Regions from separate parts of the Homo sapiens genome. Here region 1 is linked to region 2. Evidence: fine-mapped expression QTL. A gene starts in region 2. The other region holds a variant in brackets. All regions are shown on one strand. Distances are between the middles of the regions.

What was found.
Region 1: its variant is fine-mapped to the expression of CCDC92B in vagina (GTEx, PIP above 0.99).

What each region holds. Positions count from the first base shown.
Region 1 is chr17:2,340,075-2,342,979 of GRCh38, reverse strand. The region is part of intron 1 of SGSM2 (small G protein signaling modulator 2); the gene reads right to left. Among named protein-coding and RNA genes, the nearest start is that of SGSM2, 4.0 kb to the right of the region's middle. The variant C/TCACTTGAAC (reference allele first, on the strand shown) is at 1,767.
Region 2 is chr17:2,748,443-2,751,347 of GRCh38, reverse strand. CCDC92B (coiled-coil domain containing 92B) reads left to right here and starts at 1,696. Exons shown (of 4, transcript NM_001355573.2): 1 at 1,696-1,937. RefSeq lists a silencer at 1,317-1,506.

The sequences.
Region 1 (2,905 bases), 410 kb after region 2:
TTTGAGATGGAGTCTCGCTCTGTTGCCCAGGCTGGAGTACAGTGGCGTGATCTCGGCTCACTGCAGCCTCTGCCTCCCGGGTTCAAGCGATTCTCCTGCCTCAGCCTCCCGAGTAGCTGGGACAACAGGTGCATGCCACCACGCCCTGCTAATTTTTGTATTTTTAGTAACGATGGGGTTTCACCATATTGGTCAGGCTGGTCTTGAACGCCTGACCTCAGGTGATCCACCCGCCCGGCCTCCCAAAGTGCTGGGATTACAGGCGTGAGCCACTGTGCTCAGTCATTTCTTTAAGAAAGCACTTAAAAAGAAATCTTTTTAACTGATGTGCAGTAAACATATAAAAGAACATATCACAATTACACAGCGTGGTGAATTTTCACAAACTGAACACTCCTGTGAAATCAGCAACTAGAGCAAGAAACAGAACATGTGACCAACACCCTCGCCTCATCACCTTCCCTTCTAGTCACTATTCCCCCTAAGGGTACCCACTCTCCTGATTCCAACACGACAGTTTTGTGGGTTTTTATACTTTTTTTGTTTGTTTGTTTCTGAAATGGAGTTTCGCTCTTTTGCCCAGGCTGGAGTGAAGTGGCGCGTTCTCAGCTCACTGCAACCTCCAACTCCCGGGTTCAAGAGATTCTCCTGCCTCAGCCTCCACAGTAGCCGGGATTACAGGCATGCACCACCACACCTGGCTTTTTTTTTTTTTTTTGTATTTTTAGTAGAGACGGGGTTTCTCCATGTTGGCCAGGCTGGTCTTGAACTCCTGACCTCGGTGATCCACCCGCGTTGGCCTCCCAAAGTGCTGGGATTACAGGTGTGAGCCGCCACCACACCCGGCCTGGGTTTTTATACTTTTTATAAGTGGAATCACTCAGCGTGTAGTGTTTTGTGACTAGTTTCTTTTGCTCACCTGTGTCATTCTGAAATTTGTTCATGTTGTGTATAGCTGTAGATTGTTCATTCTCCGTGCGCGTTGTGTACAGTTGTAGGTTGTTCACTCTCCGTGGTGTGAACGTACAAACACCCGGCGTTTGGGTGGTTTCCAGTTTGGGGCTGTTATGGATACTGCTGCTGTGAACATTGAGGACTGTCTTCTGGTGAACAAATGTTTGGGATTTATGTTTCTAGGCAAGGAATGTCTGATGCACACACTTTATTAGATATTGCCAAATTGTTCTCCAAAGTTGGTTATACCACTTTACACTCCCATGTATGAGGTTCTGGTGGTTCCCAACATTTAACCCAAACTCTGTTGATGTCCTGGGAGAACCTGCTAGCAGGCAGTCCTAGTACTGGAGATTATAGAGATTACCTAGTGCAGAATGTTACACATAAAGTGAGCCTTGGGTAGAGCTAGTCTTCCCCATTCTTTAGACAGGAATGTAATGTTCTGATGCTGTCCAGGTTCCCAAGACCCTTAGTCAAGACTGTATAGTTTGGAGGGTGGTAGAACCTCAAAAGCCTGGGGAGGCGGGAAGAAGGACCTGGAGGCCCCTCCCTGCCGGAAACTGCTAATGGTTAGTGCTCAGGTAAAAGGGGATCAGATCAATTAATGCAAATGCACTCTAAGCTGTTAAAAGCTTCCTAGACGGCTGGGCATGGTGGCTCACGCCTGTAATCCCAGCACTTTGGGAGGATCAGGCTGACCAAAATGGTGAAACCCCATTTCTACTAAAAATACAAAAATTAGCCAAGCATGGTGGTGGGTGCCAGTAATCCCAGCTACTCAAGAGGCTGAGGCAGAAGAATCACTTGAA[C/TCACTTGAAC]CCGGAGGCAGAGGTTGCAGTGAGCTGAGATCGCACTCCAGCCTGGGCAACAAGAGTGAAACTCTATCTCAAAAAAACAAACAAACAAACAAAAAAAACTTCCTAGATTACCTCCCAAGGATGTTAGCATTCAACAGAGGATAATGTCACAGCTAAAGACCTGGAGGCATCTGAAGCAGGCTGATGGGGAGGATTTTTGGGTTGAAGGATCTGCAGATACCCCTAGAATTATACCAGTGGTCCTTTGTGAAAGGCCAGCCTGGTCTACCAATATTCCTGTTGTTTTTCCTTGCAGAAGGGACAGGATGTTTCTGTAGAAATTAAACACTGGGCCAGGCGTGGTGGCTCACGACTATAATCCCAGCACTTTGGGAGGCCAAGGTGGGCGGATCACGAGGTCAGGAGATCGAGACCATCCTGGCTAACATGGTGAAACCCCGTCTCTACTAAAAATACAAAAAATTAGCCGGGCGTGGTGGCAGGCGCCTGTAGTCCCAGCTACTCAGAAGGCTGAGGCAGGAGAAAGGCGTGAACCCGGGAGGCGGAGCTTGCAGTGAGCTGAGATGGCGCCACGGCACTCCAGCCTGGGCAACAGAGCGAGACTCCATCTCAAAAAAAAAAAAAGAAATCAAACACTGAAGGAGGAAAGGAGAAACATGAGTTCAGAGCAGGTCAACTTTTGTCAGGAATGATACGTAGCTGTGGCATATTCTGACATTTCTCACATTTTCTTAGGAATCACTTTTGGAGCAGTATAGTCCAGTTTCTAAGCACTGGTGGAAAAAGTCATCATCCTCTTAAAAAATATTTCCTGGCGGTCGCAGTGGCTCATGCCTGTAATCCCAGCACCTTGGGAGGCCAAGGCGAGGTCAGGAGATCGAGACTATCCTGGCCAACATGGTGAAACCCCATCTCTACTAAAATACGAAAAATTAGCTGGGTGTGGTGGCATGTGCCTGTAGTCCCAGCTACTTGGGAGGCTGAGGCAGGGAAATCGCTTGAACCCAGGAGCTGGAGGTTGCAGTGAGCTGAGATCGCACCACTGCACTCCAGCCTGGCGACAGAGCAAGACTCCGTCTCCAAAAAAAAAAAAAAGTATTTCCCATTATCTGTGACTAACCTCCAAAATTGAGCCATAT
Region 2 (2,905 bases):
TTAGTAAAGACAGGGTTTTATCATCTTGGTCAGGCTGGTCTTGAATTCCTAACCTCATGATCCACCCACCTCAGCCTCCGAAAATGCTGGGATTAGAGCCGTGAGCCACTGAGCCTGGCCCCTGCAACTCTTTAGGATTAGAATTTTCCAGGAGCAGCTAAAGCTTTTTAGTTGTTGACACCTGAGTCCAGTTAACCTTTGGAAAGTGGGGAGGACAGGGAGGAAAGGGACCCATAGAGAGGCAGGGTGCCCCTTGAGGCCTCCCCAGGGCCTCTGTGGCAAGTAGGTGCCGGGTCTCCCAGCTCTGAAGGTACAGGGCTTCTCTGAAAATTTGGTCCAGGAGGAAAGGCCAGGGATTATTTGGCTAGCCATGGAGTGGGGAAAGCCAGGCACCAACCCATTAGCCTGAATCCACTCAGCCCAGTCCTCCAGGCAGGGACAGGAATGACTTACCCAGAGCAATCTCTGAGCCACCTGCCACTCACACAATGCTACCTCATCCCTTGTCATGAGCACAGAGGCCTAACAAGCACTCAGCAGTACTGTTCTGAGCACTTTACAGGAAGGAATTCATTTAATCCTCACAACAACCCGAAGATCTTATGAGCTACATAGATCATCATTATCCTCATTTACAGATGAGACCAAGCCCCCGGCAGGAGGAAGATATTAGGGCAGCCACACTTTTGAGGCACACAGTGGGACTCCTGAAGCCTCCCACGTTTGGTGAAAACGGATCAACAGCAATGCCTCGCACGTGTTCTGAACTTTGGAGTTTTTTTGTTTATTTGTTTTTGACATAGAGTCTCGCTCTGTCACACAGGCTGGAGTGCGGTGGCACGATCTTGGCCACTGCAACCTCTGCCTCCCAGGTTCAAGCGATTCTCCTGCCTCAGCCTTCCGAGTAGCTGGGATTAGAGGCGCCCGCCACTCCCGGCTAATTTTTGTAGTTTTAGTAGAGATTGGGATACATACACCATGTTGGCCAGGCTGGTCTCGAACTCCTGACTTCAGGTGATCCGCCCGCCTCGGCCTCCCAAACTGCTGGCCTCACAGGCGTGAGCCACTGCGCCCGGCCTGAACTTTGGAGTTTATCAAGAATCTTCCCTTGGCTCTTGGGACCCTCATAGAACTTAAAGCATAATAATAATAATAAAAGAATTTTAGAAATAGGGCATCTTATCAACTGCGGCCCAGAGAGGTGATGTGACTCACCCAAGGCCACACAGCTAGTGAGAGGTCTGGGGCAGGTTTGCTGCTGCCTAGACACGGGACGGATTCCCAGCCCACTGGTCAGATCGCGCTTCGCCCCAAGCCTTGCCTGCGCGGCTGCGGGCGCTGCCTCTCCTTCCTACGCCAGGGCGGGAGGGGCGGAGCGGATCGCGGCCTGGCGGCCTGGGCGCTGTCCGCGGTGCTGATCCTTCGCCGCGCCCCTGCGCGCCAAGGCACCGGCGGGTTCCCCAGTTTGCCCTTCCAGCTACCAGCCAAAGCCAGCTCCGCGAGCCCAGCGGCCCGCTGGGGGCCTCAGGCCCGGTTCCCGGGGCTCTCGGGGCTCCCGGGGTTCCCCCTCCCCCCGACCGCGCGCCGCCGGCCTCCCCTCCCCCCGCCCCGCCCACGGCCCCTCCCCGCCCGTCTCAGGTCCCTCCCCTCCCCCTTTCTCTCTCCCGCCCCCCGCACCCCTCCGGCTCGTTCGCCAGTTCCGGTCACGTTGCTGGGTGTTTACGCCTCGAGCCCGCCCCCGACCCCCCTTCGGCGCCCCCGAGCCCCCCGGAGCCCCGGCCCGACTGCCCCGCAGCCTCCCAGCAGCTGATGGCGCCGCAGCCGGGGCGGGCGCTGCAGATCCCCGGGCGCAGCTAGCGTGGGGGGAAGAGCGCCGCCCCCACCCAGCCCGGCCCGGACCCAGGGCCCCGCCGGCCGGTGACTCCCAGGTCCCGAAGGTGAGGAGGCCGGTCGGTGGGCGTGGGGGGTGTGGGCGCCGGAGCGGCCCCAGGGGGGAGCAGCGCGGCCAAGCTCCAGCTCCCCCGGGAGGGCTGGCGCGGGGCTGGGCACCGCAGCGCGCGGGAGGCGGACAGGACTCGCGGCGGGCTGCTGGCAGAAGTTGTCCTCCACCGCCCAGACCCGGGCCCTGCCTGGCACTGCCGGGCGTCCAGAGCGGCCCGAGGTCGAGCCCCGCCACCTCCCGCCACGCACACCTTTATTTCTGCTGCCTTTGCCCTCCTCTCTGCTACCTCGCTTCCCCGTCCTCCTTAGTCTCCACATCCCCCCCCCAACCCCTGCCTTCCCTGGGAGTCATATTGGAGGCATAATCAGGGCAGAACCTGAAGCCTGAAGGGGGTGGGGGGCTCCAGTTTCCCCATACACCCCATTCCCGTGTGACTGGATCCTCAGCTTTGCTGAGGTGGAGGGTCCTGAGCGCTTCAGTGCAGGGGGCAGCCAGAGTTGAGGGGTTCGGCGGGGAGGGGCTCCGGAGTGGAGAGGACCACAAGGTCCCTGGGGAGTGTGGCTCCACCACTGGCCAAGCGGCCCCACCTTGCAGACAGAGTCCTAGACATTTGTCAAAGGCTGAATCCTTGTTCCAAACTCCAGTCCCCAGGAAAGCCAAGGATGTGGGGTTGAGGGACCAGCATACTTATTTTTTAATATGTGTATTTACTTGCCCTGGTGATTCCCAGTAAGACTCAATCCATTCTCCCTGTTTCAGCAGCATTCATTGTGGGCCTGTTCCTTGCAAGAGATTCCCAGAGACAAAGCCTTGCCCTCAGGAAGCGTATGGCTTAGTACAGAAGCCAGGTGCATTCAGGCACATGCACACACACACACACACACACACACACACACACAAACACGATGAAGACTTATGGCTTTGCACGGAAGCCAGGTGCGTGCAGGCATGCGTGCACACACA